Linked DNA regions of Homo sapiens: regions 2, 3 and 4 are each linked to region 1. Evidence: fine-mapped expression QTL. A gene starts in region 1. Each other region holds a variant in brackets. All regions are shown on one strand. Distances are between the middles of the regions. Region 1 holds the start of CMTM3 (CKLF like MARVEL transmembrane domain containing 3). Region 2 overlaps BEAN1 (brain expressed associated with NEDD4 1). Region 3 overlaps CMTM4 (CKLF like MARVEL transmembrane domain containing 4). Region 4 overlaps LOC124903703 (a long non-coding RNA gene).

Evidence for each region. PIP is the estimated chance that this variant, and not a neighbour inherited with it, causes the effect.
Region 2: its variant is fine-mapped to the expression of CMTM3 in whole blood (INTERVAL, PIP 0.94).
Region 3: its variant is fine-mapped to the expression of CMTM3 in whole blood (TwinsUK, PIP 0.95).
Region 4: its variant is fine-mapped to the expression of CMTM3 in whole blood (INTERVAL, PIP 0.91).

The regions. Positions count from the first base shown.
Region 1 is chr16:66,600,922-66,609,024 of GRCh38, forward strand. It overlaps CMTM3 (CKLF like MARVEL transmembrane domain containing 3), which reads left to right and starts at 3,783. Exons shown (of 5, transcript NM_181553.4): 1 at 3,783-4,031; 2 at 7,388-7,543. The coding sequence starts at 3,885. It also overlaps a transcript of CMTM4 not described here. RefSeq lists silencers at 3,668-4,507, 4,568-4,787 and an enhancer at 8,079-8,103.
Region 2 is chr16:66,432,511-66,440,613 of GRCh38, forward strand. It overlaps BEAN1 (brain expressed associated with NEDD4 1), which reads left to right. Exons shown (of 5, transcript NM_001178020.3): 2 at 5,085-5,191. The coding sequence starts at 5,167. Among named protein-coding and RNA genes, the nearest start is that of BEAN1, 9.3 kb to the left of the region's middle. The variant C/CT (reference allele first, on the strand shown) is at 3,756.
Region 3 is chr16:66,682,824-66,690,926 of GRCh38, forward strand. All of the region lies in intron 1 of CMTM4 (CKLF like MARVEL transmembrane domain containing 4), which reads right to left. Among named protein-coding and RNA genes, the nearest start is that of CMTM4, 9.9 kb to the right of the region's middle. The variant CT/C (reference allele first, on the strand shown) is at 4,315.
Region 4 is chr16:67,552,534-67,560,636 of GRCh38, forward strand. All of the region lies in intron 1 of LOC124903703 (a long non-coding RNA gene), which reads right to left. Among named protein-coding and RNA genes, the nearest start is that of CTCF-DT, 5.7 kb to the right of the region's middle. RefSeq lists enhancers at 1-164, 165-664. The variant CA/C (reference allele first, on the strand shown) is at 4,169.

The sequences.
Region 1 (8,103 bases):
TAGAGGGGTCAGCATGGACAATGGCTCTGTGGCAGGAGGGACCATAGTTTGTTCCAGGAACTGTAAGAGGTCCATGGGAGAGGCAGGGGAGGGAAGCACAGCAAAGAGTTATATTTTCCTTCTATACTAAGACCCTGTGCAGGTTGGGAAGCTCCCATGGTTTGTGTGTGTGTGTGTGTGTGTGTCTGTGTGTGTGTGTGTGTGTGTGTGTGTTTATCTTTGTGGGGAGGAGATGGAAGTGTTACAGGATCTTTGGGGTGTTAATTTTCTGGTTGGAAACCTCTGTGGCCAGTGGCACCTTTGCCAGAGTTCTTGTCTTGCATCCAGGAAGAATGAGGTACACAGACAAGTGGAGGGAGAACAAGTCAACAAGGAGGTTTACTGAGTGTTAGAAAGCTCAGAGGAGACTGACAGTGGGTAGCTCTTCTCTGTAGGGAGGTCATCCCGTTGAGTGTTCAGCTCTCAGCAGAGAGGAGGCCCTGGAGAGTGTGGCTCCTCTCTGTACCTGGTCCTCCCAACCTCTGCTCAGCTCTGGCTGAGACTGGGGCTTTTATGGGCCTCAGAGTGGAGGAAGTGTGAGCCCAGTTGATCTATGGGCAGCCATGGGTGGGTCAGAAAAGGAGGTACAAGTTCCCACTCTGGTCGGTCGGACTGGCAGCCTGGCCCCCAGCCTTCAGGCCCTCCCTGGCCCAAAGGTGGGGCCTCAATGGGACTTGCCCCCTTCCACCCAGGAATCTGTCCGCCTCCTGCTGCCATTCATGAAGCCCAGGCTTGCCCCAACTTTGCTCCCAGATCAGAGCACGTGTCCACAGCAGGAAGAAGCCAGGCAGCAGGAGAAGGCACTTCCGAGCCTGGGAGGGCAGGTGGGGGCCTTCCTGGGCCCCTAAGAGTACAGGGATGCCTGAGCCTGCAGCTGTGGTTTGGGCAGCTGTAGCTGTGGGAAAGGGGGTCCCAGGGCTCCTGTCTGCCCCATGGAGGAGGCCCCATTCTGCAGCTGCAGTTTGGGTAGCTGCAGCTGCACCTGGGAGAGCAGGACTCCTGCCTGCTCCATGGAGTGTGCAGCCCAGGCCATGCCTCCCTGCTGCAGCTGGGTGATGATAGCAGCAGGTTGTCTGGAGCCACGGCTGCCATCAAAAGTGATCAATGACTGGTGATTGTCATGAGTGGTACAAGGTCAAGAGATAATCAGGTCTGGCCAGGTGCGGTGGCTCACGCCTGTAATCCCAAACCTTTGGGAGGCCGAGGCGGGAAGATTGTTGGAGGCCAGGAGTTCAAGACCAGCCTGGCCAACATGGCAAAACCCTGTCTCTACTAAAAATACAAAAATTAGCTGGGTGTGGTGGCACAGGCCTGTAATCCCAGCTACTTGGGAGACTGAGGCATGAGAATCCCTTGAATCTGGGAGGTGGAGGTTGCAGTGAGCCAAGATCATGCCACTGCACTCCAGCCTGGGTGACAGAGCAAGCCTCTGTCTCAAGAAAGAAAAAAGAGATAACTAGGTCCACACGTGTTTGTGTCTTTCCACAGTGTCAGATTTTTATTCACCCTATACCCAAGGGTAAAAAAAAACAAAAGCCACAAGCTATCCCAAGGAGCCAATTTGCTTCTTCTTCTTCTTCTTCTTTTTTCTTTCATACAGAGTCTCACTCTGCCGCCCAGGCTGGAGTGCAGCTGGAGTGCAGTGGTGCGATCTCAGCTCACTGCAACCTCTGCCTTCTGGGTTCAAGTGATTCTCATGCCTCACCCTCCCAAGTAGCTGGGGTTACAGGCCTGTGCCACCACGCCCAGCTAATTTTTGTATTTTTAGTGGAGATGGGTTTTCGCCATGTTGGCCAAGCTGGTCTCGAACTCCTGACCTCAGGTGATCTGCCTGCCTCAGCCTCCCAAAATGCTGGAATTATAGGCATGGGCCACTGCACCCAGACCCAAGGAGCCAATTTTCCTTAGTACTTCCCGTTCACTCAGTAGTGAGCACATGGGCTCAAGCCACTCCACAAGTCAGTCAATATTGCAAACCATATATAATAGTATACTTAATCCACATGTAAATGTTATAAACATTCCACAACAAACAAAGTAGCATTTAACATCAAGAGAAAAAGAGATAGGAGAAAGGGTTAAGGAACCAGTTCCAGGGTAAGGAAGAAGACAAAAGGAATCCTGGTCTGGGCTTGAGGGTCTTGCAGAGTCTTTGAGGGGCAGAGCCTTGGGAGGCAGATGCAGAGTTCTTATGAACGGCAGTGGGATGGTTGTCAGTTAAGGCTGCTGGGCTGCTGTTTTGTAGTCACAGAGTGCTCTGGTGAGAAATGGTAGAGGAACAGTGTGCTTCTTTGTGTCCTTATGTGGTTGGACGCAGTCTTTATTTATTTTTTTTTTTATTTTTTGAGACAGAGTCTTGCTCTGTCGCCCAGGCTGGGGTGCAGTGGTGTGATTTTGGCTCACTGCAACCTATGCCTCCCGGGTTCAAGCGATTCTTGTGCCTCAGCCTCCTGAGTAGCTGAGATTATAGGCACGGTGCCACCACGCCCAGCTAATTTTTGTATTTTTAGTAGACACGGGGTTTCACTATATTGGCCAGGCTGGTCTCGAACTCCTGACCTCGTGATCCACCCACCTCAGCCTCCCAACGTGCTGGGATTACAGGCATGAGCCACAGCGCCTGACCTTCTATTTTTTATTAAACAAAACATCTTGCCCTTGTTGGCAAAGCACCCTATGAAATATAAAATGAAGTCTTTTTCTAAGATGGAGTTAGTTATGTCAAGGGTGCGCAGTACTGTGCCATAAGCTCTCCCCCGGCTGCCCAGAGAGAAAACCTAAGGGCCTCTTAAAGACACCATCACAGCAGTTCAGCGGGGAGCAGGCAGGAATGGTTTCGGATCTAGTGGTGGTGAGAAGTAGACAGAGATCAGAGAAAGTTATAGGAGGTGAAAGTGGGAGGACCTTGGTTACAGACTGCCGGTGAAGAGGGACAAGGACAACCCGCAGGTCTCCGCTAGTCAGGTGGAAGGAAAGGAGGGGGCAGTGCCCTTCGCAGAGGCACAGGAAGCTGGGTCTTGATCACGCTGAACTCCAGACGCTCTCTAGATGTGCACGCATGTGCGTGTGGAGTGTGTGTGTGTGTGTGTGTGAGAGAGAGAGATGTGTTGGGGTGGGGGGACTGCAGGTCAGGAAGTCCTGCAGATGTGCGTGCCTGTGTGTGTTTGCGCGCGCGCGCGCGTGTGTGTGTGTCTGTGTGTGTGCCTGGAGCTGCGCTTGCAGGTCTGAGAGTCCTCTGAGAATGGGTTGGGGGAGGCGGGTGCAGGACCGAGGCCTGGAACAGCCAACAAAGAGGCCCTGGAGGAGGGTGGGGCTGGCCGGGGACAGGAGGGGTGGCCAAGAAAGTCGCAAGAAAACTCCGGCCCCCAAGAAAAAGAGAGGGCATGGGTTGCGGAGCCGACATCACGGCCGGGGTCTTTGCTGTTTAGACGCCTGGGTTCCCGGATCCCAGACACGCGCACGGGCAGGAAGTTAGACCGGAGACAGCGAGTATAGACAGCCCTTCTGGATAGGGGCAGACGGGTGGGAGCTCCGAAGGGGTGCCGGGGCGGTGATCGGGAGGTCTCCAGCGGCCCGAACCAGGGTGAAGAAGAAGGTGGAGTCTGCGGAGGCCCCAGGCCGGGGAGGGGGCGGGTCGGGCCCAGCATCCCCCGCAGCCGGGGTCCGAGGGGGAGGGGCGGGCTGGAGGAGCGGGTGGGGGCGGGGCGGGGCGTGGCGGCGGGGGATGCGCCCCTGCGCGAGCCAGTGTCGCCTGCCCTCCTTCCGCACAGCCCGGGTTTCCGCTTCCCTCCGGGCGCGAGAAGAGGGGAGCCAGGCCGAGCCCCGGCCCTACCGCCGCCGCCGCCATGTGGCCCCCAGACCCCGACCCCGACCCGGACCCCGAGCCTGCCGGCGGCTCCCGTCCCGGCCCCGCGGTCCCCGGGCTCCGCGCCCTGCTGCCGGCGCGGGCTTTCCTCTGCTCTCTCAAAGGCCGCCTCCTGCTGGCCGAGTCGGTGAGTGCGGCGGGACCCTCGGCCGCCCCGCTAGGACTGCGCGGCTCCTTTCGGAGGAGGACGTCGGGGCGCGGGTGGGGTCCGGGGGCGGCCGCCGTGCTCCGATACCCCCTCTCCGCGCCGCCTCGGCCGACTTCTCTCGGGCGCCTGGCGAAGTTGGGTCGAGGTCCCCAAACTTTGGACGGCGGGGCGGGGCCCGAGCCCAGGCCATCCGCGGCGCTGTCCCCGCGAGTCCAGAGCTGGGGGCCGTGGGAAGTGGGTGGGGCCCGGGGATGTGGGTCCTGCTGTGTGAGCCAGGCGCCCCCGCCCTCTCTGGGCCCCGGGGACTCGGGCAACTCGGACCTCCGGGACTCCCGGGCCGCAGCGGGGTCCGCTTTCCTGCGAGCGGGTAGTGCGGGCCGGGGCCTCGACCTGCGGGGCCGAGCCGGCGGGGGGCCGTGCGGAGCGGGAGGGATCCCCCACCCCCGGGACTGGGTGAGGCGGCCCCGCGGTGACTTCATCGCCCTCCTCCCCTCCGCGGCCGGGCTCCTTCCTACTCCGCCCTCGCCCCCACCCCGGCCGGTGGGGCTTCTTTGTCCTCTGGACACCGGAGGCGCCCGCACTGTCCGCTGTGGGGTAGGGGTGGCGCTGGGCCGTTGGGGATGGGGAGGGAGAGGCCGGGCCGGAGACCGGGGGAGGCGGGAGGAGAGAGCGGCGCACGGCGGCGGCCACTTGTTGCTTAGATCCCAGGAACTTGGCGCTTCCTGCCCTTGTCCCCACTTTACAGATGAGAGCGCTCAGGCGCCTGATTTGACAGGTGGCTCAACTGAGGGGCCCAGTGAGAGCGGCCAGGAGGGTGGGGGCAGGAGGAAGGGGGATTCTGCTCCGGGACCTCTCCCTGGTCACTCAGGGCAGAGGGCAGAAGGTGGTCCTGCAGCCTCTCCCACGGTCAGCCCAGAGGCCACCTGCCCAACGCCCAAGTGAGACACCAATGCCACACTCCGAGCCCACACTCCCAGCCCCACCCTGGAGACCACTGGGAGCCACTTGAGGGGAGAAGCCTCGAATCCACCGTCCCCAGAGTGGCTTGAACCCCCCCATCCCCACCCAAGACCACCTCATAAGAGGGAGGCATATGTCCAGCAGGAGCATAGAGGCCACCCTGGGCCCAGCAGATGTCAGGAATCCAGGTCAGGGAGGATAAGGAAGGGTGAACGGTCAGCACTCAGGGTTCACAGGAGCCGCTGAGGGCACTCCTGCCTCCCTAGTCCCCTCACTCCCACCCCCAGGCCAAGCAAGTGCAGAGGCTGAGATGGACAGAAACAGAGAGAGGAAGTGGCCCCAGAAATCGCGGGATGAAAAAACAGGAATTGAGAGGGGAATCCCCAGAATTAGGCTTTGGGGTGCAGGCATAGGAGACAGGAAGGGGAGGGCCAGAGCTGGGTCAGTCCCATGGAAGGCCTTCCTGGGAGGCCCCAGCAGCCTCCCAGCCCGTCTCTATGCCTTAGTCTATCTTTCCAAAGGGGGCTCAGCTGCACCCAAGGCCATGTGCAGAGCAAATGGGGGTGCTCTGGGGACCCCCTGGGATCCCTGCAGTTCATTTGTCTGAAGCAGCCACAGTGCTTCCTGTGGGGCATCTGGGTGTCCCCATGGGGACTCCTGCACCCACTAGAAACTACTCAGCCATAGACATGTTCAAACGCAGCCACAGTGACAGAAACCAGGGACAGATGGCCTCCCCAACACCCACAGGGCCAAGTTGCTTAAGAACTCTACCTGGGCCGGGCGTGGTGGCTCATGCCTGTAATCCCAACACTTTAGGAGGCCGAGGTGGGTGGATCACCTGAGGTCAGGAATTCGAGACCAGCCTGGCCAGCATGGTGAAACCCTGTCTCTACTAAAAATAAAAAAATTAGCTGGGTTTGGTGGCGGGCGCCTGTAATCCCAGCTACTCGGGAAGGCTGAGGCAGGAGAATCACTTGAACCCCGGAGGTGGAGGTTGCAGTGAACTGAGATCGTGCCACTGCACTCCAGCCTGGGAGACGGAGCAAGACTCCATCTCTGGGGCGGAGGTAAGATAACTCTATCTGGGGGGTCAGCCAGCCCTGGGTTCAAATTCTAGTAGCCTCTGATTAGCCATGTGACAGAGTCTTCTCATCTGTCAAGTGGGGCTGTGCTCATGGGTGGATGTGAGGGTCAGAGGAGATGCCCGTGAGCCTCAGGGTACCAGGCACTGTGGAGCCCCAGGCTGGCCAACAGGTCACCTTGGCCTGCTCTGCAGCGTACCTGGGCTGCAGGACTGCCCAGGGCTCAACATCCTCCTGCATCAGCTCTTCCCACCTACAGAGTTGTGGGCAAGACCACAGTGAACATTTTGATTCTTGTAGTTCAAGTACAGCTGGCCCCACCTTTCACAGCTGGCCCTGTATGAATAAGGCAGCAGGGCCTGAGGTGTCAGTGCCAACGCACCCTCTGTTAGATGTTCCTTTCTTATCATTATGAAAATTTGCAAATACATTAAAACTCCAAAAGATTTTTTTGCTTTATCTATCTGTCCATCAAGGCATTTTATCTTTTAACACAAAATAAATTGCAGACATCAGGACATTTCAACTCTGAACACTTCAGGACGCATATCATTAAGGTTCAAGGTTTTTTCTTTTCAAGGTGAAATCTACATTCAGTGACGAGCACACGTCTTTGGTGTTGGGTGTTACTTTTTGGAAACTGGTTCCTGCCTCGCTTTGATTTCCCTCCGCAGGGCACTGAGTGGAGTGCATGTGCTTGGAAGGCTGGGGCTTTCTGACTAGGTCCTGTCAGGGAGCTGGGGTGGGGTAAGGTGAGGACTCAGGGCCATGCCCAGGACTGGGAGGCAGCATAGGTGTGAGCCTGGGCCATGCTGGGTTTTTTTTTTTTGTAGGGGCGGGTGCGGACAGGGTCTCTCTCTCTCTCACCCAGGATGGAGTGCAGTGGCCTGATCACAGCTCACTGCAGCCTCGACCTCCCCGGGCTCAGGTGATCCTCCCACCTCAGCCTCCCAAGTAGCTGGGATTTCAGGCACACACCACCATGCCCGGCTAATTTTTGTATATTTTGCCGAGATGAGGTTTTGCCATGTTGCCCAAGCTGGGGTCAAATTTCTGGGCTCAAGCAATCCACCTGCCTGGGCCTCTCAAAGTGCTAGGATTACAGGTGTGAGCCACTGTGCTTGGCCTGGGATTCTAATCTGGCTCTGCCACTTCCCAGCTGCGGGACTGTGAGCAGTTGGCTTCCCCTGCTGGAACCTCCTCTATCCTGACCACAGGGCCTGGCTCAGAGGAGCACTGGACAAGGAACATGAAAAGGCTCTGACTTCACCTCAAACTCCTTCCCCGCAGGGTCTCTCATTCATCACTTTTATCTGCTATGTGGCGTCCTCAGCATCTGCCTTCCTCACAGCGCCTCTGCTGGAGTTCCTGCTGGCCTTGTACTTCCTCTTTGCTGATGCCATGCAGCTGAATGACAAGTGGCAGGGCTTGTGCTGGCCCATGATGGTGAGGACAGGGGCCCCAGGAGGGAGGGGTGCCCTGCACAAAGTGGCCAGATGAGGAGTCCAGAGTCGTGCACTTGGGCCCTTATCCTTTCTCTAGTGTGCTGGAGTTTGCAGTTGGTTAGAACTGGATGGAGAGACCCAGCTTCAGATCATCCCAGCTCCACTACTCAGCAGCCCTGTGACCTCAAGTGGGCTGTGGTGCCTCTAGAGCAGGTCTGTGAGGCAGGGAACCCGGAGAGGGGTCTCTGGCCACCAGGTGGCGCCGGTGCTCCCCACCGGGCCTACAGGAATGAGCTGCCGCCACAGGAATTCAAGCCATTTCCACGTGGGCAGGACAGGTTAACTGAGGACTTGCAGGGCTTACCCAGACTTCAGCCATCGGCAACCCTGACCTCGTTTTATCACCTGTGAGGGCCCAGACCCCAGTGGACCTCGCTGAATGAAATGTGTCCTAGAGAAAGGGCAGCAAAGGCTCAACTTGAACCCTTGTCTCTTGACTTCATATCCAGCATCTGCTGCCTCAGGAGGGCTGCACCCTCTGTGTCCCCATCTTAGGGACGG
Region 2 (8,103 bases), 170 kb before region 1:
TGCACACCCGCAGATCCATGAAACCCCTGTGACATGGCATCATGCCTTCACTCAGCAGTCACGGGGCACTTCCTATGTGCCAGGCACCATGCTGAGTGCCAGGGACACAGTGATTGTCTGAGCTATCAAGACCTGGAGTCACCATCTCTCCCATCTCCACCATCTGCCGGTCACCCAGGCAGACAGGGAATCACCTTACACTCCTCCTTCTTCCTCACCCTCTCTATCAGATCCATCTGTCCCTAAAACCCACCAAGGGTGTTCCCGCCCAGGGTCTTTTGCCCTCTCTGCTACCTGTACCCAGAATCCTCTCTCCCCAGGTATCTGCCCACCTAGCTTGCTTCCTCCAGTCTCTGCTTACCTGCACCCTCTCACCAAGGCTTTCTGCAGCCGCTGTATCTAACCATCTAACAGTGCAATTCCCACCTGCACACACTGCTTCTGTTTTTCCTGTACTGTTAGCTTGCAGACTTCACCATTACCATTGCATCTCCAGTCCTAGTCAGAAAGGGACTGTCAAAGTGTGGCTCACCAGTCTGTCCCCAGCACCTAAAACCTGCTGCATCAGGGACTTTATTTTATTTATTTATTTATTTTTATTATTTTTATTATTTTTGAGATGGAGTCTCCCTCTGTTGCCCAGGCTGGAGTGCAGTAGTGCAATCTTGGCTCACTGCAACCCCCACCTCCCGGGTTCAAGTGATTCTCCTGCCTCAGCTTCCTGAGTAGCTGGGACTACAGGCGCACACCACCACACTCAGCTAATTTTTTTGTATTTTTAGTAGAGATAGGATTTCACCATGTTGGCCAGGCTGGTCTCCTAACTCCTAACTCCAAGTAATCCGCCCTCTTTGGCCTCTCAAAGTGCTGGGATTACAGGCGTGAGCCACTGCACTCAGCCGAGACTTTCAATAAACACTTGAACCAGTGATGGCAGCCTCTGCCCCTCCTCTGCAGTCACCGTTGCCTTTGTTTAGGCCCCATCACCTCTGGCCACGGCCTCCCAAGCTCCCTGCCTCCTGTTTCCCTCACCTGGCGCCCCCTCCACCTTCCTAAAGAGAGAATAGCTGAGCAATCCTGCTTCAAATCCTCCTAGGAACCCTCTTGGGGCAGGGGCTCACCACCTCATCGGGCCCCTTATTCTTCTGAGTCACAGTGTTGTCATCTGTGAATTGGGGATTTGTTTTGAGGATCCAGTAAGCTGACAGCATGTGGCAGCAACTGAGCAGAGGCTGTGTAAACAGGTGGCCATCCTGTGGCCTCTTTCACAAGGCCAGCCCACCCCCACAGCCTATCTCTGTCTGCCGCCCATGGTGTGAGGCTGGCCGCTCCTGGGGCCTTCCAGCTCTGTAAGCCTCTGCCATGAGGATCCCCAGACACTGGCGCGTCAGCAGACCCAGGCTCTCTCCCCTTAGCCACATGCTCCCCTGCCCAACTCTGAGTGTCACAGCAGAGCCCAGAGTGGAGATATTCCCGGAGCGGGGACATGAAGGGGAGTGGGAATGACGTGGACTTGCCACACACCATTCAGCCACTTCAAAGCCTGGAGTGCCACCAGCCCGCCCTCGAGTTCCCAGCCAGACAATCCAGTAGGAGATGAGTCACTGGCAGGAGCGAGCCTCGCATGCTGGGCTCAAAGAGAGGCGGGCAGGGGAAGAGGTGACCACGCTTGGCCTAGCAGCTGGGGTGGGCCTGCCCCCGACCCCGACCCCAACCCCGACCCCGACCCCTGGCAAAGGAACCACAGTCCCAGCCCATCTGTGCCCCTCATGGCTGTCTCCTCTCAGCAACTTCAGTCACATGCGTGCGGGACACCAGGATGGGCACTTGCTTACCTGGAGCCCCCACACCCAGCTCCTTTGTCTTGATGACCCCGACAAAGCTCTACCCTAGCAGAGGGTCTGATGCCACCAGGGAGTGGTTTTCTTCTGGGTCCTCCGGCAGAAATCCTGGAGTGGGGGAAGGGAGAAGGAAACAGGCAGCCAGGCTGAAAGTCCAGCTCCTATTTTAGGACCCCCCAAAGTCCCTCCATGTGTTTTCCAAGGGTTTTGTGGGACACCGCGTAGGTGCTTGGGAAATGAATCAATGGATGCAAGCCTGGGGTGCTAGGAGGTTGCAGCGGGAGGCTGTGTTTAAAGTGCTGATGGCATTGCAGGAGGCAGGGAGTGGCAGCCCGGGTTACTGTTGGCATCGTGGTCACCAATGGTGACAAGATGCCTGGGAAGCATCTCAGCTTTTTGCATAGAGATCCTCCTCTTCAGCAAGCCAAGCACCTTTGAAAGGCAGCCTCCACCCCTCAGTCGTGCGCTTGCATCAGGCTGAGGTTGGCTTGCTCTAGTGTTTCCATGCACTTTTGAACTTCCCCTCCGTTCCCAACCCTGAGCTAGTTTGCAGAGGCCACACTGACCCTCCATGCCCTCGAGGAGCTACTGGTCTAGAATAATTTAGATCCGGAGTTGTCCTGGAAGGGCACCCAGGTGTGACAGAAACACAGCCAGAGTGATCATTCTGTCTCCACCAGTCAAGGAGGACCTCACTGAAGAGGTGTCTTGATCTGGGTATTGACAGCTACATAGGAGTTTGCCAAGTGGAAGGAATGGCATGCTAGGGAGAGGGAACAGCCCAGAAGGATGATCAGCCCAGGGTGTCTAGGAAGCAGGCCAGCCAGAGCATCAGGGCAGCCGGTCTCTGGGGGTGTCCCTGGCAGTAACTGAGAGGCACTGGGGGTGAGAGAGTCCCTCTGCACACAGCTCTTCCTCCATCTCTTCTCTGTGACCTTGGATGGGTTATTTCCCTGAGCCTGTTCTCTCATCTGCACAATGGAAATGATGTCCCCCACCTCAAAAGTCTGTTGCAATACCATTGGTGACATTAGGCACATGCAGGTATTTGGTGAATGTGAGCCACAGCTGGAGGCCCCAGTGCCCAGAAGGCTTCCTTGTAGGGAAATGCAGCCAAAGTGCACTGAGAAATAACTGGTTTGTTTTTGTTTTTTGAGATAAAGTCTCACTCTGTCACCCAGGCTGGAGTGCAGTGGCATGATCTCGGCTCACTGCAACCTCCACCTCCCAGGTTCAAGCGATTCTCCTGCCTCAGCCTCCCGAGTAGCTGGGATCACAGGCACATGCCACCACACCTGGATAATTTTTTGTATTTTTAGTAGAGATGGGGTTTCACTGTGTTAGCCAGGATGGTCTCGATCTCCTGACCTCATGATCCGCCTGCCTCGGCCTCCCAAAGTGCTGGGATTACAAGCATGAGCCACCACGCCTGGCCAAAATAACTGGTTTTTCTATTTAACGTGAATCAGAGAACTGTCTTTGGAGAGTCTGTGCTCAAAAGTCTAATCCTTCAGTGCTAATACCAGCTCTGCCAATTCTTGGCAGTGTTTTGCCTCTCTGAGCCTTGGTGTCCTCATATTCTTCTTAGCCCCTCCCAAGCAGGGATGGCAAGCCTCAATTTGCTTTAGGGATGAGGGATATATACCCCCTCATGACCCCTGCAGGGGCAAACTCTTTTCCCATTGGCTTTAGGGCTGCCAGCTATGCCCTGCAAAAGCCCACAGGGCTTGGCACTCATGATCTCTGCTCACCAATGCCCACAGGTGCAGTTTCGCTTCTGCAAGGCAAGTGACCACACTCCCTAGAAATAAAAACCTTATCTCTCTCCTGTTCCTACAGCCTCATGTCCCTTGGGAGACATGAACCAATTCAGATCTTCAGCAACATGGGAGAATGGGCTACTTTTTTTCTTTT[C/CT]TTTTTTTTTTTTTTTTTTTGAGACAGAGTCTCGCTCTGTCACCCAGGCTGGAGTGCAGTGGCATGATCTCGGCTCACTGCAAGCTCCGCCTCCCAGGTTGACGCCATTCTCCTGCCTCAGCCTCCTGAGTAGCTGGGACTACAGGCGCCTGCCACCATGCCCGGCTAATTTTTTGTATTTTTTTTTTTTTTTTAGTAGAGACGGGGTTTCACCGTGTTAGCCAGGATGGTCTCGATCTCCTGACCTTATGATCTGCCCGCCTCGGCCTCCCAAAGTGCTGGGATTACAGGTGTGAGCCACTGCATCCAGCCCCTTTTTTTTTTTTTAAAGAGAGGGTCTCACTCTGTCACCCAAGCTGGAGTGCAGTGGTGTGAACATGGCCCACTGCAGCCTTGACCTCCTGGACTCAAGCAATCCTCCCATCACAGCCTCCCGAAATACTGGGATTACAGGTGTGAGCCATTGCACCCAGCCATGAGTTACCTTTTTAAAATGTTTTCTCCATTGCAAATTGGAGTCAAAGTGACCTGGCCCTCCCTCACTGCTCTAGACATCCACTTGTTCATCAGGTTCATACTGGGGGGCGGGGAGAGAGGGAAAGAAGCATTTTCATTCTGTAGGCCTTTGTTTCTGAATCGGTAATTTAATATACAGATGCCTTCTAAAGAATTGTGCTGGCTGACAGTGTGGGCTCTGGAGTCAAACTGATCTGGACTCAAGTCTCAGCCAGTAGTTAGAAGCTGTGTGCCCTTGGGCAAGCTGCATAACCACTGAGCCTCAACTTCCTTGTTTATAAAATGGGGATGAAAAGAGCATCCTCCTCTTATTTATGTTGGGGTAATAATAATAATAATAATAATATGGTTTGGGCTAGGTGTCAATGAACACCCTTCAAAAGCCAGCTGTGAGAGCTTGAACTAGCCCCTCACCTCTCCAGGTCTCAGTGTTCCCAGCCCTGATAGTTCCAAGTGGCTCATGATGCCATGGTCTGTTGAAGTTGTCCGAAGCAGTGGGATCTCACATTTTCATCATGAGACAGAAGAACTCTGGGATCCTAATTCCCAAAGATCCACCCAAGAGAGATATCTCCTCCCCACCACCCCCCACCACTGGGACCCCAACACACACTTGCCCTACCCCTGTGTCCCTCTCCCCATTCTACAGCCCAGAGGTCCCCCAGCCCCTTGCCCAGACTAGGCACGTGCTCTCAAAGAAGTGACCATCCTCTCCCGCAGAGGTTGACAGCTCAGGAGATGTGAGCGCCCAGCCTGCAGGGGCTGTGGGTGCGCCATGGGCCCCCCAACACCTGCCTGTTTGTGTCTCCGCAGGTGAGTGGAGGGGCCTTCCCTGCGAGAAGTCAGAGCTGTGCCCGTGGGCAGGCTGGCTCCGCTGTTCTGCTCCAAGGATTACATGTCCTTCAAACGTCCCTGCCCCTGTAAGTTTCCTCCCCACATCCTTCCACCACTTGGGGCCAGGCAAGGGCAGAGCTTGGAGTCGAGCTGCAGAGAACGGCTTGAGGTGTTTGGCCAAAGAACTGCAGGGGTCCAACCAGAGGCTAATGTGGCATGCTGGGTGGGGAGAGGGCAACACGGAAGACCCCTGACGTCTGCAAGATGCTCCCTGAGAACTGAAAATCGCACTTTGGCCCATTCTTCTGTATCAGCCCTTCCCGAAGTGTGGATCGGAGTTCCTCTGAGGGATGTTAATGGGATGACACACACCCACACACAAATAAAAGACTACATGGCCAAGTAAGTGGGAAAAATGCTGGGGGAGTCATGTTAAGAAAGTTTTGCTCCTGCAAGACTTTCCTGAGCTTTTAATATGGTGATGTGTGGCCGGCGTGGTGGCTCATGCCTGTAATCCCAGCCCTTTGGGAAGCCGAGACAGATGGAATACCTCAGGTCAGGAGTTCGAGACCAGCCTGGCCAACATGGTGAAACCCCGTCTCTACTAAAAATACAAACATTAGCTGGGCATGGTGGTGGGCGCCTGTAATCCCAGCTACTCAGGAAGCTGAGGCAGGAGAATTGCTTGAATCCGGGAGGCGGAGGTTGCAGTGAGCCGAGATCACACCATTGCACTCCAGCCTGGGCGACAGAGCGAAACTCTGTCTCAGAAAACAAATAATAATAACATGGTGATGTGTGTTGTGAGGCTCCCATAGGTAAGAGAAAACCCACTGCTCCTCTCAAACATTAACCACAAAGAATGTTTCATGGGATTGGTGTTCCCCAGAACACACTTCTCGGGGTTTACTCTCCTAAGGAAACCCATCCCGAGCATCCCCACCATGAAGTTCCTCATTCGCGGAAGCCTGTAGATGATCTTGCCCGTCGGCAGTCTTCTCATGGCTCCCTGAGGCCCCTGAGTCCAAGTGATGGAATCAGCCAGGGGTACCCCTGATGTCCAAGACTGCAGCCCCCTCGACTTCTCCCCTAGTCTCCACCCGCTTGACTCATGCCACCACCCTTGCCCCAGGGCCCCTTTCACTTCTCCCACAGCAGCCACCTGCTTTCTTCCATGATGTTCCCTGAGCCCCCCCCAAACCACCACCACTCGCTATAATTTGGGGAGACATGCAGGACTGCCCTGTCCCTTCTCCTTGATAAGTCAGGACTGTGAGTCTGTGAAATCAGAGACCCTAACCTCAGAGGGGGACACTTTCCCCTCTCCCCTGCTCACTGTGGGTAATGCCTCCCCAACTCGCCATTGTCTGTTCCAATCTGTGCCATTGTTTACGTGGATCATGGGGGTGGGGGCCTCTCTTCCAAAAGTCGAAGCCTTATTGTTAAATCATTTGGATATCAAGGGACAGCTGCAGTGGGAGGTAGGGGACACTGGCATGTCCCACCTGGGTGAGATCATCACCAGGCACGCCAGGGGGATGAGCTGGCTGTGGGGTTCATTGTTCAAAGAGTAGTGTCCAGAGGGTGGTGGAGCTCGGCCTGGCTGCTCTGGGTACCCGAGGAGGGGTAGTGATGGATAGCACAGGCTCAACAAATTGTTGCTGTTGTCACTGTTGCTGTGGCATGATCAGGAAAGGAAAGCCTGAGTCCCAGGCCAGGAGAGGAGACTGCTATTCAGGGCACCCCAGAGCCCAGGGACACCTGCCCTGCAGAGCACTGGGATGGTCATGTTCTTGGCCCTATCTTCTGGCCAGGCAGGAGCAGCCCAGCATGGAGAAGCCTGGGAAAAGTCAAGGCTGGGGATGCTGAGTGCGGAGGGCTTTCCAGAACCTTTTGGGCTGAACCCCAGGCCATTGGAAGCTGGGTCCATCTCACTAACAGAGGCCATCCCTGCAGGGCAGCCCTCTGCATATCCACCTCCTGAGGACTCCAGGGTGTGGTCACTGACATTCGAGGCCATTTAGAAGTGGCTCCTGCACATCTCTGAAATTCCCCCTTCCCCAAAGACCCAATACCTAGCATGCAGTAGGCACTCAATGTTTGTTGAGTGAATAAACACATAATTAAACACCCTGGAGGAGGAGCTAGAGGCCATTGTCAGGGAGAAGCTGAAGCCCCTGACTCTGCCACCAGATCCCTCCATGACTTTGACCCAGACATATCTCTGAGACAAAGGGGTCCACCAAGCCCAGTGGATTCCAGGAGCTCAGGACTGCTGCGAGGCTCCATGGAGACTCTGTCATTGTCTCTGCCAAATTCTTCTCACATTGTCCAGTCTGAACTTGTCCAAGAAGCACCTGGTGTCCCCTTCCAGCACCCACAATCAGCTTCAGTCTGGGTCCAGTCTGGCTTGTGCACCCGCACCCCAACATCCCATCAACTTCTGTGAAGTTAAAACCATTCCATGGTTTCCATTTCTCAGCTGCGTCTCACCCTGTTGGGTACTTCTTTTTTTTTTTTTTTTTTTTTTTTGAGATGGAGTTTCACGCTGCCACCCAGGCTGGAGTGCAGTGGCACGATCTCAGCTCACTGCAGGCTCCGCCTCCCAGGTTCAAGCGATTCTCCTGACTCAGCCTCCCAAGTAGCTGGGACTACAGGCGCCCACCACCACACCTGGCTAAGTTTTTTTTGTTTTTAATAGAGATAGGGTTTCATCATTTGACCAGGCTCGTCTCGAACTCCTGACTTCAGGTGATCTGCCTGCGTTGGCCTCCCAAAGAGCTGGGATTACAGGCGTGAGCCACAGTGCCTGGCCCCTGCTGGGTGCTTCTGTTTGTGATGACTTCTCCTGCTTTGGGTTCCCTGACTCAGAGTCCTCCCTGTGTCCTCCAGCCAGCCTCTCAGACCATCTGACCTTCCATTCGTGGTCTCCTTTGGCAGTGGTGGAAGAGCAGGGATTCTCCCTGCACCTGCCCTGGGATGCTGGGCCCCCAGGGCT
Region 3 (8,103 bases), 82 kb after region 1:
ACAGATACAAGCCTCTCTCTTTCTGAATGTGTTAATCAGAAAGCAGACAACTTCAATAATAATTACAGAATCCTGGTTTTCATTTTACACTTTTCTAGGCAAAAAGATTGGCAAAGCCTCTTATGGTTTCCCCAACTTTTACAAAAATCTGTCTCCTAAGCAAAATCTTCTGTTTCCTAGTAGCAGTAGATAGTCTACTTAAAGTTAAAAAAAGAAAAAGTAATTACGATGGCATTTTATTTCCATAGTTTCTCTCCAATATTTTCCACCTCAAATAGAGTCTAGTTGTGTGTGTGTGTGTGTGTGTATATATATATATATATGTATATATATATACGTATATATATATATACATATGTATATATATATACATATATATATATATATAAATTTTCCCCATGGATTCCATGTTTTCAAAAACTTGACCTTACAAACTACATTAATAACCCATTTTTTTCTTTTCTTTTTTTTTTTTTTTTTTTTTTTGAGACGGAGTCTTGCTCTGTCACCCAGGCTGGAGTGCAGTGGCGTGATCTCGGCTCACTGCAAGCTCCGCCTCCTGGGTTCACATCATTCTCCTGCCTCAGCCTCCCGAGCAGCTGGGACTACAGGCGCCCACCACCACGGCCAGCTAATTTTTTGTATTTGCAATAGAGACAGGGTTTCACCATGTTAGCCAGGATGGTCTCGATCTCCTGACCTCGTGATCCGCCTGCCTCGGTCTCCCAAAGTGCTGGGAGCTACCACGCCCGGCCCATTTTTTTTCTTTTATTAAACAAACACATACATTCAACTGTCTATTCAACACCTATGTGCCAGACCCTGGTTTAGACACGGGATACAGCAGGGAACTTGAAAGCCAAGTCTTTGCTCTCATGGAGCTGACCTTCCAGCTGGATGGTCAATGCTCTGGAGGAGAATCAAGCAGGGTGACAGGGGTCAATAGTAAGGCAGAGTGGGGTGGGGGAGTGTTCTATTCCAGATGTGGGGGGATAGGGAAGGTCTCTTTTGAGCGGGAACCAGAAGAACAGAGCCAAGTGGGAATCTCTCTGAGCCTATTCCGGTGCAGGAGGCTGCCTAATTTAAAAAATAAAAATAGCTAAGCGGGCATTTTCAGGAAGAGAGTGAGGGATGAGAGAATAAACCCTGAGTGCAAAGACGAAGGCAGGTGCATATTAATCAAAAGCTTACTGAAAGCTCCTGATCAACCTGAAGTAATCGGTATTATAAAATTCCAGCCAGAGGTAAGAAATTTTACCTCATTCTGCTTAATGTAAGCAGAAATCTGCCTTATTCTGCTTACTGTGGTTTAGAGTATAGACTGTTTGAAATATAATTAGTACCCAGGCCCTCTTTTTTTCGTTTTTGAGACAGAATCTCCCTCTGTCGCCCAGGCTGGAGAGCAGTGGCATGATCTCGGCTTACTGAAACCTCCACCTCCCGGGGTTCAAGCAATTCTCCTGCCTCATCCTCCCGAGTAGCTGGGATTACAAGTACCCACCACCAAGCCTAGCTAATTTTTTTTGCATTTTTAGTAGAGACTGGGTTTTACTATGTTGGCCAGGCTGGTCTCAAACTCCTGACCTCAAGTGATCTGCCTGCCTCAGCCTCCCAAAGTGCTGGGATTACAGGCATGAGCCACTGCACCCCTCAGCCCTCTTTCTCTCAATCCCCCATTACTACCTTAATAAACTCTAGTGATCCCAGGACCCCACTCTGAAAACCAGTGATAGCCCCCATCTCGAGAAAAGGCCACACACGAGAGGCACTGCAATGAAGCCTGAACACCCCCCAACCCACTGCTTTAAGTTGAGAATTTTTCACAAAAATCCTCCCCCATCAAGAAGTTAAACTGTTTAAAAATAGGATAGTTTCCAAATACTTAAACAAGCAGTATCTTCTCCCCCAGGAGGTGTCACTTTCTGAGCTTGAGCCCTTCTACTTATTGGCCTCTTCTCCAGCCTGCTGCAGCCCTGCTCTAGAGCCCTGGACCACTTCAAACTGAGGTCAAAGTTTAAGTCAGCTGACAGGCCGAAGCCATCCCCCTGAGCAGGGGTTCCCTGCTCTCTTCCTCTCCACCTCTCCCAGTCTATATCCTTCCTCCTTCCTGGAGCCCTGAGGCTAATGAACCCAAATCCCATCTCATCTCACCCTGCATGTTACTTCTCTTGTACACACAGCCTGTTCTCCAGGAATCACCTTATTTTCCAAATAAAAATATCAGGGTATATTGTGAGCACACGGGTACTGTCACATGAATTGCTGTAATTTCAATGCTTAGAATACTTCACAATTTATAGTAAAATAATTATTTAAAATTTAGGATTATACTTATATATGGTCTGATGAGGCAGCACAGGAAATTGAGACTGTCTGGGAAAATTTATTATCTGTGATCCCTTCTGCTCTATTCTCTAATAAGTAACTTTATTTTCCAAAGGAATCCCATGTCATCCTGCAAAAGCATTTGGGGTTACTTCCAGAAACAAGGATGCGAGAGTCAGTGATAACAGCTATAGGCTGAAAACTCCATGCTGGTATTTCCAGGCTATTTCAATGGCTCAGGGAAGACTGCTGTGGGGGAAGAAAAAAAAAAATCAACCCCAGCTTCCAGACATACCTCAGTCCTTAATGGGGTAGGCCACACGTGTGGTGCAGCTCAAGTCTGTACAGCACGACTTTAGGCTGGAAAGAGCTCTCTCCCAGGCACCCAGGTATGCATTCATTCTACCGAGAGAGAAGCATCCTGACACACAGCCCTGTCCTTACCTCTAAGCATCCTTTGGAGTGCCATAACCTGGGAAAGATTCTTACTGATTTCTTTTTTGTTTGTTTTTTGAGGTAGGGTCTCACTCTATTGCCCAGGCTGGAGTGCAGTGGTGCAATTTTGGCTCACTGCAACCTCCGCCTCCCAGGTTCAAGCGATTCTCGTGCCTCAGCCTCCTGAGTTGCTGGGACTACAGGCATAGGCCACCACACCCGGATAATTTTTTGTATTTTTAGTAGAGATCTTGTTTCACCACGTTACCCAGGCTGGTCTCGAACTCCTGAGCTCAGGCAATCTGTCCACCTCGGCCTCTCAAAGTGCTAGGATTACAGGCATGAGCCACTGCGCCTGGCCTGATTTCTAATTAAGAACAAAGTTCTGGAGCCGGGCATGGTGGCTCATGCCTGTAATCCCAGCAGTTTGGGAGGCCAAGGCGGGTGGATCACGAGGTCAAGAGATCAAGACCATCCCGGCCAACATGGTGAAACCCTGTCTCTACTAAAAATACAAAAGTTAGCTGGGCGTGGTGGCACGCGCCTGTAGTCCCAGCTACTCGGGGAGTCTGAGGCAGGAGAGTCCCTTGAATCCAGGAGGTGGAGGTTGCAGTGAGCCGAGATCGCACCACTGCACTCCAGCCTGGTGACAGAGCAAGATTCCGTCTCCAAAAAAAAAAAAAACAACAAAGTTCCAGCCAGGCACAGTGGCTCACACCAGTAATCCCAGCACTTTGGGAGGCCAAGATGAGCACATCACTTGAGCTCAGGAGTTCGAGACCAGCCTGGCCAACATGGGAAACCCTATCTCTACAAAAAATACAAAAATTAGCCAGGCGCCTGTAATCCCAGCTACTCAGGAGGCGGAGGCAGGAGAATTGCTTGAACCCAGGAGGTGGAGGTTGCAGTGAGCCAAGATTGCGCCACTGCACTCCAGCCTGGGTGACAGTCAGACTCTGTCTCAAAAAAAAAAAAAAAAAAAAAGTTCCTCCAAAGTTGTGGAGAAAGAATTAATTTAGCCCTGTGGTCCAGGAGGAGCCATTAGGACTTACAGAGGTCACCATTTCCCAGTTGTCTGTACTTGTGGGTAAGCATACTAGAAACCTGGAATAAACTGAGACCTTCAGATATGCTTTGGGAGGAAATGTCAACCAAGTCTGTATTTTTTTTTTAAATGTTCAGAAATGTGGTGGTCTTGTCCTTTGATGTAGTAAAAGCACTCCTTGAAATTTAACCAAAAATAATAATTCAAAAGAAGAATCCAGGCTACACTCATGAGGACATTTATTGACGCATCTTCCTAATAGCAAAAAAACTAGAAAACATAATCACCAGACTTTGCCACAGGGGATCATATGTAGCCTTTGGAAAGGAAAAAATTTCCAAGTCCTTTTCATTTGAGTCTGTCATAATACGATGATTATTTTTCTAATTTCTAATTTTCTTTAATGTTACAACATTTTCACTAACAAATGAGGGTAAATTCCTTTCAAATGGAAGAAGTTTTCCATTAGCATCAACAAATTTATTAAGCACCCACTATTGTGCAGAATG[CT/C]TTTTTTTTTTTTTTTTTTACAGAAAAGTGCATTTTAAAACAATTTAAGCTTCAAGTTTGTCCAAGTGGTCTGTATTATCTAAATCATTCTTCCCAAGGGCCTCCAAATTACAAAGAAAGTCATGAAAAGTTAAAGATTACAGTCAGTATATGAGCTTTAAGGCTATACTAAGGTAAAGCTAGTAACATCTACTATTTTAGTAATTTTTGAATAGAAGGTACTTGCATGTGGTACAAAATTCAAGGGCTGGGAGCAGTGGCTCATGCCTGTAAACCTTGGACTTTGGGAGCTGAAGGCAAGAGGATCGCTTGAGCCCAGGAGTTTGTGGCCAGCCTAGGCAACATAGCGAGACCGTCTCAAAAATAAAATAAAATAAAATAAAATACAAAAGGTACAAACAGTTATACAGCAGAAAATGTCTCCCTGACACCCTGGCCCTCGGCCACCCAGCTCCCCAACTTGTATCATTCCAGAGATATTCTGTATCACTATCAGTCTGTTGTCTGTTCTGGTTGCTATAACCAAATACCGTAAAAAGGGTAATTTTTTTTTTTTTTTTTTTTTTTGAGACGGAGTCTCGCTCTGTCGCCCAGGCTGGAGTGCAGTGGCGCAATCTTGGCTCACTGCAAGCTCCGCCTCCTGGGTTCACGCTATTCTCCTGCCTCAGCCTCCTGAGTAGCTGGGACTACAGGCGCCTGCCACCACACCCGGCTAATTTTTTATATTTTTCATTGAGACCGGGTTTCACCGTGTTAGCCAGGATGGTCTTGATCTCCTGACCTTGTGATCTGCCCGCCTCGGCCTCCCAGAGTGCTGGGATTACAGGTGTAAGCCACCGCGCCTGGCCAAAATGGGTAATTTATAAATAGAAATTTATTGCTCATAGTTCTGGAGGCTGGAAACTCCAAGATCCAGGTGCCAGCAGATTCAGTATCTGAGTGAGGGCCCATTCTTCACAGACGGCACTTTCTATGTGTCCTCACATGGCAGAATGAGCAAGGACACTCCCTTCAAACTCTTTTAAAAGGGCACTAATCCCATTCATGAGGGCTGAGCCCTCATGACTTAATTACTTCCCAAAAGGCTCCACCTCTTAATACTATCACACTGGGTGTTAGGTTCCAACATCTGAATTTTGGGGGAATGCCAACATTCAGACCATAGCAACCTCCAACAGGCTTTGATGACGTGGTGTCTTGAGACGCTGAGCTAGGGAGCATGGTGGGCTCACCAGCACTGTAATACTACCATTATCCCCAACTTACAATCCCCAAGTGAGAGACCTGCAGGAGATCTGCTTGTGGCCTGAGTGAACAAGTAGCTTGCCAAAAGTCTCATGGCCGATAAGAGATACGAAGTCCATCATACTCTCAGAAACACTCCCCTCAACACACACACACACACACACACACATTCTACCCTAAACAAGGGTGACTTCATGTCATTGTTCTCTCTCCCTGGAACATACCTCCATAAACCATCACTAGCCCTTTGCCTGGCTAATATAAAGTTTAGAATCAGCATTCTTCTATCTACAAAAAAACCTTGCTAGGATTTTGGGATCGTATTAAACCTATAGATCATTTGTGGAGAACTAATATTTTAACTATATTGAGTTTTCCAATCCTAATGAACACAGAATGCCTGTCTACTTATTTTGGTCATCTTTGATTTCTTACTTCAGTGTTTTGTAGTTTTCAGTGAGCAGATTCTATACATGTTTTGTGAGATTTATATCTAAGAATTTCATTCTTTTGAGTGCTGTTATAACTGATATTGGTTTTTTTGTTTTAATTTCCAATGATTTATTGCTAGGATATAAAAATACTATTGGTTATCGTGTGTTGACCTTATATCCTGTAACCTTGCTAACTCACTTATTAGTTCTAGGAGGTTTTTTATAGATTCCCATGTGATTATCTACCTAATCATGCCATATGCGAATAGGGACAGTTTTATTTATTTCTGATCTGTACGTCTCCTATTAATTTTTTTGCAACGGCTAGGACTTCCAGTATGATCTTGAATATGAGTGGTAACAGTAAACATCATTGCCTGTTTCCCATCATGGGGGAAAGCATTCATTCTTTCCCCACTGTAACATTATATATTACAGTATAATGTTAGCTGTAGATTTTTTGTAGATGCCCTTTTTCAGGTTGAAGAAGTTCCTTTCTCTTCCAAGTTTGCTGACAGCATTTATTATGGAAAAGTACTGAATTTTGTCAAAAGTTTTTTTTTTCTGCATCAAATGATAGAATCATGTGGCTTTGGGTTTTGTTTTGTTTTTGAGAAACGGTCTCACTCTGTTGCCCAGGCTGGAGTGTAGTGGCACGATCGCGGCTCACCGCAGCCTTGACCTCCTGGGCTCAAGCAATTCTCCCACCTTAGCCTACAGCTGGGACTACAGGCATGCACAACCATGTCATGCTAATTTTTGTATTTTTTGTAGAGAAGGGGATTCACCATGTTGCCCAGGCTGGTCTTGAACTCCTGGGCTCAAGCAATCCACCTGCCTCGGCCTCCCAAAGTGCTGGGACTACAGACATAAGCCACTGTGCCTGGCCTGTTATTTTAAGTTATTAATATGGTGTACACCTATAACATTTACTTTCAAAAACTGCACCAACCTTTTTGTTCCTGGGATAAATCAAATTGGTTTGGTGTATTATTCTTTCTCCATTATGCTGGGTTTTATTTTCTATATGGTATTTTGTTGAGGATTTCTGTGTCTGTGTTCATATAAGGAATATTGGTCTGTAGTATCATTTTCTTGAACTGTCTTTGTGTGGTTTTGTAAAACACATGTACGCTCTACATTTAACAACTTCTTTTGAGATCGTGGATTATAATTTCACTATTTTTAATCATCAAAAAAACTTAAGAGTAATTATAACTTTGCTTTTCTGCCAGAATTTATTTGACTCCAAGTCCTTGATCAGGAAGACAACTCCTAAAGATAACAATCTTCCTAAAGGAAAATGGGACTGTTTTACAAGGAGCCACAGAATGGTGGATCTGAGAATCCAACATAGAGAAACCCACTGCTTCATCTACCATTATGCGCTTGTATATGCATGACTTCAGGGATAAATGGGAGCCAGAAGTACAAAGGAATCTTCAGTAGTAAACAAAACGCAGAACCCTTCACGGTTTGACCAGGGTCATTGTGTGTCTGCCTGGTCATTTGACCAGCTCTTACGAATCAGGAACCCAGCTGAACCTCAGTTGAACCAGCCCCTCCAACAGAACTGAGGGGATTTGGGGCTGATAAGCTCAGTGCTATGTCTACAGCCAGTCATTTCTCAAAGTTGCAGCTTTGTAAATGTAGCTATATTTGTGTTGCATATGATTTCTATAATGTATTACTGCCCCACCCCTGCACATCCTCCAGAGAACAGTAACCAGCCAGGGATTGTGCTGACTGGCTTGAGATTTAAAAAACTAACAAGGTTTCCACCAAATAAAAGAGATGCCATTACCCACCCCTGAAGTGCAAATACTCACATTTGTTTTTGAGTTACGTAAGAAAGCAACTATCAAACATTAACCTCTTAATTCTTACAATTCCTAAAATGGTCAATTAGTCATTACTACCCATACTGTACAACTGAGGAACCCAGATTCGATGAGATTAAGAGACATCAAAATCAGCTGAGCTAAAATTTGCATTTAAACATTTCCAGGCCAGGCGCAGTGGCTCACACCTGTAATCCCAGCACTTTGGGAGACCAAAACAGCAGGATTGCTTGAGCTCAGGAGTTCGAGATTAGCCTCTAGTTTGAGG
Region 4 (8,103 bases), 950 kb after region 1:
AGACTGGTGGAGGAAGCAAGCAAGCTGAATCCCCAGGGGCCAGAGGGGGCAGTTAGAGATGAGGCTGAGGGGGTGAGCAGGGGCTTGGTGAGCATGGGAGGCCTTGTGGAGTGGCTGAGTTTGGAATTTATCCCAGGGTACCGGGGAGCCACCAGTGGGCTTGAAGCAGGGGGGTTTTGTGATCACGTGTGTGCTTTGGGAAGGTCACTCTGGCAGCTGTGAGAGGGAGGAGGCCGGAAGCAGGGAGGAGCCTGCAGTTACATTAGAAGAAGCAAGAGTCTGGGCCTGGTGGCTCACGCTTATAATCCCAGCACTTTGGGAGGCTGAAGCAGGTGGATTGCTTGAGCTCAGGAGTTTGAGACCAGCCTAGGCAACATGGCAAAACCCCATCTCTACAAAAAATACAAAAATTAGCTGGGCACGGTGGTGTGCACCTGTAGCATCAGCTACTGAGGAGGCTGAAGCAGGAGGATAACTTGAGCCTGGGAGGTTAGGGCTGCGTGAGCTGTGACTGCACCACTGCCTGATAGCCTGGGCAACAGAGTGAGACCCCATCTCAAAAAAAAAAAAAAAAAAGAAGCAAGAGTAGCCTGGGCCAGAGTGGGTAAAGGCTAGAAGCAGAGGCTTGAAAGTCATGCTCGCTTTAGCATGCGGTTTCATATGACTACTGTGATGTCCAGTGACTGCTCCGCTCCATTCCTTCCACACCTGTAGCCTATACCTTTACACTTCCCTTTTCATCCTTGACTTTTACCTTCTAATACTCAAGGTTTAGTCTGATATTTCCACACTAATATAAAACGAAATAGAAGGCACTCGAGGGCTAGGGACATCCTCTATCTATCTCTGGTAGTACCTAACCTTGAACATAGACCTGGGTCCTAAGCAGTTATTCAGGACATACTTGTAGATTAATAAGTCATCACCTAAATACCTCTGCTGTCTGCCTGAGAGCCTGAAGTTTCCACAATTAAAGCCCTTCCCAGCCTGGGCAACATAGTGAGACCCTGTCTCTATAAATAATTCTTTTTTTTTTAATTAGCCAGACATGGTGGCATGTGCCTGTAGTCCTAGCGACTCAGGAGGATTGCTTGAGCCCAGGAGTTAAAGGCTGCAGTGAGCTATGATTACGCCATTGCACTTCAGCCTGGGTGACAGAGTGAGATCCCATCTTTTTTTTTTTTTTTTTTCCTGAGACAGAGTCTCGCTCTGTCGCCCAGGCTGGAGTGCAGTGGTGCAATCTTGGCTCACTGCAACCTCTACCTCCCAGGTTCAAGTGATTCCCCTGCCTCAGCCTGCTGAGTAGATGGGATGACAGGCACACACCACCACAACCAGCTAATTTTTGTATTTTTAGTAGAGACGGGGTTTCACCATGTTGGTCAGGCTGGTCTCGAACTCCTGACCTCGTGATCCACCCACCTTAGCCTCCCAAAGTGCTGGGATTATAGGCCGTGATTGCCATCACACCAAGCCTACAGTCCCCCATTTTTTATGGGGGATATGTTCCAAGCTCTCTGGTGGATGTCTGAAATCAAGGATAGTCCTGAATCCTATATATAGTATGTGTTATCAATCTGATAACTGAGATGGCTACTAAGTGGCTAATAGGTGGGTAGTATATACAGCATGGGTATGCTGGACAATGGAACGAGTCACATTCCAGGCAGTATGCAGCAGGATGTTGTGAGATTTCACCACTCTACTCAGAATGGTGTGCAATTCGAAACATGATTTCTGGAAGTTTCCATTTAGTATTTTCAGACTGCAGTTGACCATGTGTAACCAATAGCAGAAAATAGCAGAAAGTGAAGCTGTGAACAAGGGGGAGACTACTGTACTCATTCTGATTTTGCCAACAAGTTGCCGGACAACCCTGAGCAAGTCACTTCATTTCTGAATTTAGGACAAAACTGCCTGGCTGATCAAATAGAGCTGTGAGCATCACTTGAAAAGGCAGACATGAAGGTGTTTTGCAAAATGAAAAATATAGAGATGGATTATAAAGGGTGATCCATGCATGTTTGGAAAAGTAAGTAACAGCACAGAAAACAAAATCAACTTCTAAAACATTGGATATAGGTTTAGCAACAGTCCTTTATACCTTTAAGAGCAGTCATTTGAGCTGAGAGGTAAAAAATAAATATGGCTGGCCGGGGTAACCCCAGCACTTTGGGAGGCTGAGGCGGGCAGATCACAAGGTCAGGAGATCGAGACCATCCTGGCTAACAGGGTGAAACCCCATCTCTACTAAAAATACAAAAACATTAGCTGGGCATGGTGGCACATACCTGTAGTCCCAGCTACTCAGGAGGCTGAGGCAGGAGAATTGCTTGAATCTGGGAGGCGGAAGCTGCAGTGAGTCGAGATCTCGCCACTGCACTCCAGCCTGAGCGACACAGCGAGACTCCACCTCAAAATAAATAAATAAATAAATAGGCCGGCGTGGTGGCTCACGACTGTAATCCCAGCTCTTTGGGAGGCTGAGGTGGGCAGATCACATGAGGTTGGGAATTCCAGATCAGCCTGACTAACATGGAGAAACCCCGTCTCTACTAAAAATACAAAATTAGCCGGGCATGGTGGCGCATGCCTGTAATCCCAGCTACTTGGGAGGCTGAGGCGGGAGAATTGCTTGAACCCGGGAGGTGGAGGTTGTGGTGAGCCAAAATCATGCCATTGTACTCCAGCCTGGGCAACAAGAGCAAAACTCCGTCTCAAAATAAATAAATAAATAAATAAATAAATAAATAAATAAATAAATAAATAAGGCTTTCACAGGGGTCTGAAGAAAGCAGACATTAATAAGGAAAAAAACTCCTACAGTCTAGGCAGGAGATGATATGGAAGGATGAGTCTTTAAAATGTTAGAATAGGCCGGGCTTGGTGGCTCATGCCTGTAATCCCAGCACTTTGGGAGGCCGAGGCAGGCAGATCGTGAGGTCAGGAGATTGAGACCAGCCTGGCCAACATGGTGAAACCCATCTCTACTAAAAATACAAAAATTAGCTGGGCATGGTGGTGCGTGTCTGTAATCCCAGCAATTTGGGAGGTTCAGGCAGGAGAATTGCTTAAACCTGGGAGGCAGAGGTTGCAATGAGCCAAGATTGCACCACTGCACTCCAGGCTGGGCAACAGAGCAAGACTCCATCTTGGGGAAAAAAAAAATTTAAATGTTAGAAGTGGTTAGGCTTGGCAGTTGATGTTGGCAGACAATGAAAGCTTTCCAAATGTCTTTAAAGGTTTAGCATCACTACTCTACACCCTCATCCAATGGTGTAAGATGACTCGCTGTCCCCCAAATACTCTTGTAGACTTTTATGCCTTTGATCATGGCTCTTCACCTTACATGTCTTCGTGTCACTTGTTAATGCTTTGCTAATCCTTTAGACCCAGCTGAAATGAGATACTCCTGGAGTGATTTACTCCTTTAGCTGTGAGCTCATTTCTTTCCACTATAACAGTTATTGCATTAATTTTTTGTGTGTTTGTTTTAACCAGTTTTACTAGTTAAATTTTGAGTCCAAGGGCAGGAAACACATCGTGAGTCATCTTTGAATCTCCAGTGCCTAGAACAGGAAGCTACACACACCAAGTATTCAATAATTACTTGATGAGCTGCATCATGTCTCACACATGTTCTCAACAGGTATAGAGAAAACCAGAGTGTTCACATGTAACTTTAGGCCTTACCCCAAGGAGGGCAGGAAGATTCCCTGCTCATTATGTCTTAGAAAATCAATATGTCTCCCCTTCGTTTGTTGATTATCTTGATTAAAGAGTTTTTAAAAAACATGTAAATGATCATAATTATTGCAAGCTTTACAGGGGTAACAATAGGAGCCAAGGAAGATCTTGGAAATACAACTGTTCTCCTGAGAATCATAGGATAATGATTTCTGGCTGGGTGCAGTGGCTCATGCCTGTAATCCCAGCACTTTGGGAGGCTGAGGTAGGAGGATTGCTTCACACCAGGAGTTCGAGACCAGCCTGGGCAACATAGTAAGACCCCCATCTCTACAAAAAACAAAAAACCTTAGCCAGGTGTGTTGGCACTCGCCTATAGTCCCAGCAACTCAGAATGCTGAGGCAAAGGTTGCAGTGAGCAGAGTTCGCCACTGCACTCCACACCCCAGCCTGGGCAACAGTGGACAATGCGACCCTGTCT[CA/C]AAAAAAAAAAAAAAAAAAAAAGCTGCTTTATTTCTTGTCTAATCCTTATGGCTGTATCAAGCACAATGATCATCCCATTTTATTTATTTATTTTTTTGAGACAGAGTCTCCTCTGTCACCCAGGCTGGAGTGCAGTGGCGCGATCTCGGCTCACTGCAACCCCTGCCTTCCAGATTCAAGCAGTTCTCCCGCCTCAGCCTCCTGAGTAGCTGGGATTACAGGCACCCACTATCGTACCTGGCTAATTTTTGTATTTTTGGTCTTGAACTCCTGACCATAGGTGATCCACCTGCCTTGGCCTCCCAAAGTGCTGTGATTACAGGCATGAGCCACCACGCCCAACCTATCATCCCATTTTATAGAAGAGAAATCTATAGTTGAGTTGTTACGAATTCAACAGAGACCACACGGCTAATAAAAAACCAAGACTAGACTTGAATCCCGAACAATCTAATTCTAGCATCCAGAGAGGGTGACATTAAACATTTAAGTTACATAACTAACACTAGTTAATCTAATTAACTGCTCATCAAATATTTCTAGTAATTTGGCTTCCCCGAATGCTCTCCTATAGGGGATCAATATGCCTTTTGCCAGCACGAGGACACTGGTCCACTTGCCCGTTGTTAACAGCACTCTGCTTATCTAGCAAGCGCCTGTGAGCCTGACAAATCCCCGAGGAAGGAATCTGCTCTTAGGGTACAAACCACATTGGGTTTCTGGTCCTGTACGTGAGGCTCAAGGCCAGATCTTTTTTTTTTTTTTTTTTGAGACAGAGTCTCACTCTGTCGCCAGGCTGGAGTGGAGTGGTGCGATCTCTGCTCACTGCAACCTCCGCCTCCCAGGTTCAAGCGATTCTCCTGCCTCAGCCTCCTGAGTAGCTGGGATTACAGGCACACGCCACCACACCCAGCTAATTTCTGTATTTTCAGTAGAGACGGGATTTCACCATGTTGGCCAGGATGGTCTCAATCTCTTGACCTAGTGATCCGCCCACCTCGGCCTCTGAAAGTGCTGGGATTACAGGCATGAGCCACCGTGCCCAGCCTAGCCTTATTTTTATCACCTCAACTGTTTCACAGCCTGTCATCATATTTTCCCTCAGCTTGTTTCTTTCCAGCCTCAAACATTCTATTCCTTTTGTTTGGCCTTCTGTTCCTTCATCTTTGGAGCTGACTCCATAAAGTAGGACACATCAAGATTTACCATAAAGACAAGAAAATATTTTGTTTGTTTATTTATTTTTGAGATGAAGTCTCGCTCTGTCGCCCAGGCTGGTGTGCAGTGGCGCAATCTCGGCTCACTGCAACCTCCACCTCCCAGGTTCAAGCAATTCTCCTGCCTCAGCCTCCCGAGTAGCTGGGATTACAGGTGTGCCACCACGCCTGGCTAATTTTTATATTTTCAGTAGAGATGAGGTTTCACCATGTTGGCCAGGCTGATCTCAAACTCCTGACCTCAGGTAATCCGCCTGCCTCGGCCTCCCACAGTGCTGGGATTACAGGTGTGAGCCACTACGCCCAGCCAGAAAATATTTTCTTTTCTTCCTTCCTTAGTGATCCTTCGCATTTTCTCAGCCCTATGTGAGAGCAGTACATAGGGTCCTTGTCTTCAGAAAGCAGGCTTCAAGGCCACTTGGACCCCATTCCTGGCTTTTGATGCCTCAGAGATCATAGAGTTATAAATATAATTAATATATAGTTGTAAATATAATCATAAATATAATTGAGGCTTTTTTCCCTCTAAATCCACTGCCTCAGGCTGGGTGTGGTGGCTTACATCTGTAATCCCAAGACTTTGGGAGGCTGAGGTGGGCGGATCTCCTGAGATCAGGAGTTCAAGACCAGCCTGGCCAACATGGCAAAACCCCGTCTCCACTAAAAATACAAAAAATTAGCCAGGAGTGGTAGTGCACACCTGTAGTCCCAGCTACTCGGGAGGCTGAGGCAGGAGAATTGCTTGAACCCAGGAAGCAGAAGTTGCAGCGAGCTGAGATCGAGCCACTGCATTCCAGCCTGGGCGACAGAGTGAGATTACATCTAAAAATAAAATAAAATAAAAAAATAAATCCACTGCTTCATATTTGCCTACATAAAAGCTTTAGAAGGTGTTCCTGTAGTCTACTCTTAAAGAAGATGGGGACAGGTGTGGTGGCTTACATCCCAGCACTTTGGAAGGCCAAGACAGGAGAATTGCTGGAGCCTGAGACCAGCCTGGGCAACACAGTGAGACCTCATCTCCACAAAAAGAAAACAAAAAACAAAAAAAAAGGAAGGTGATTTGAAGTAAAATCTTGAGAAAGTGAACTAATTAGCTTATTAATGTTACTAGAAAGAAAATCTAAAGTTTAAATGCAAGTCAGCTTTTAATTTTTTTTTTATTTTTGAGACAATGTCTTGCTCTGTCACTCAGGCTGGAATGTAGTGGTGCAATCGGGGTTCACTGCAGCTTCAACCTCCTGGGCTCAAGTGATGCTCCTGCCTCAGCCTCCCAAGTATCTGGGACTACAGGTACACACCACCATGTTCAGCTAATTTTTTGTAGAGATGGGCTTTTGCCATGTTACCCAGGCTAGTCTCAAACTCCTGGGCTCAAGTAATCCACCTACCTTGGCCTCCCAAAGTGCTGGGATTACAGGCATGAGCCACTGTGCCTGGCCTATTTTTTATTTTTTTGAGACAGGGTCTTGCTTCATCACCCAGGCTGGAGTACAGTGGCACACACATGGCTCCCTGTAGTCTCGACCTCCTGGGCTCAAGCGATCTTCCCACCTCAGCCTCCCAAGTAGCTGGGACTACAGTCATACGCCACCACACTCAGCTAATTTTTAAATTTTTTGTATAAACAAGGTCTCCCTATGTGCATGTCAGCTTTGTTGTTTCTAGTACATAAGTTCTTAAGTATACCAGGAACTATTTGGGCTGAGGAGAATGCAAAATGCAAATATTCCAGAAGCATCTGTTTGGTAATTTTCCTCTGAGTTTGTCTTTTCTTTATGTCTGAGTCCTAATGTGTACATAAGAGGCAAATGGGATAACTTGGTTTCTAGAAAAAGAAGGGTCACGTGTAAATTTTTCAAATACTTCACACATTTCTAAAATAGTATCTAATTGTATAAGGTAAGTAACTGGGATTAGACATGAGAAAACTTGCCGGGCGCGGTGAGTCGCTCCTGTAATCCCAGCACTTTGGGAGGCCGAGGCGGGCGGATCACCTGAGGTTGGGAGTTCAAGACCAGCCTGACCAACATGGAGAAACCCCATCTCTACTAAAAATACAAAATTAGTCGGGGGTGGTAGCGCATGCCTGTAATCCCAGCTACTCAGGAGGTTGAGGCAGGAGAATCGCTTGAACCCAGGAGGCAGAGGTTGTGGTGAGCTGAGATCACACCATTGCACTCCAGCCTGGGCGATAAGAGCAAAACTCCGTCTCAAAAAAAAAAAAAAGAAATGAGAAAAATTGGGTCCTGGTGTTGAGAAGCTGTACTATCCCTTTTCTTCATGTCTGTACCCAAGCAGCTGAATGTTGGAGAAAAACCAACACACTGGGCCAACTGGTTTACCTTTAACATCATGATCACAAACCTCAGATGAGTACCCAATGCCACCAAGGCAATCCTGTTAAGGACTTGCCTTCCCTCTCCCCTGCACTTGCATCTGTCTTCACCTTTGTTGCCCTTATCATGAATGGAAGCATCCCTGTTCCTCTCCAAGGTCAACCCTCCCTGTTTCCTTATATCTTCTGATGGATTTCACTCCTATATAGGTCAAGCAAGCCTCCTCTCTCCTGGATCACCCATCTTTCTTCCCCACCATATCCCTCCCAATGGCACATAAACATGCTCTGGGAACCCTACCATCTTTTATTTTATTTATTATTATTTTTTGAGATGGAGTCCCGCTTTGTTGCCCAGGCTGGAGTGCTGTGGCCCAA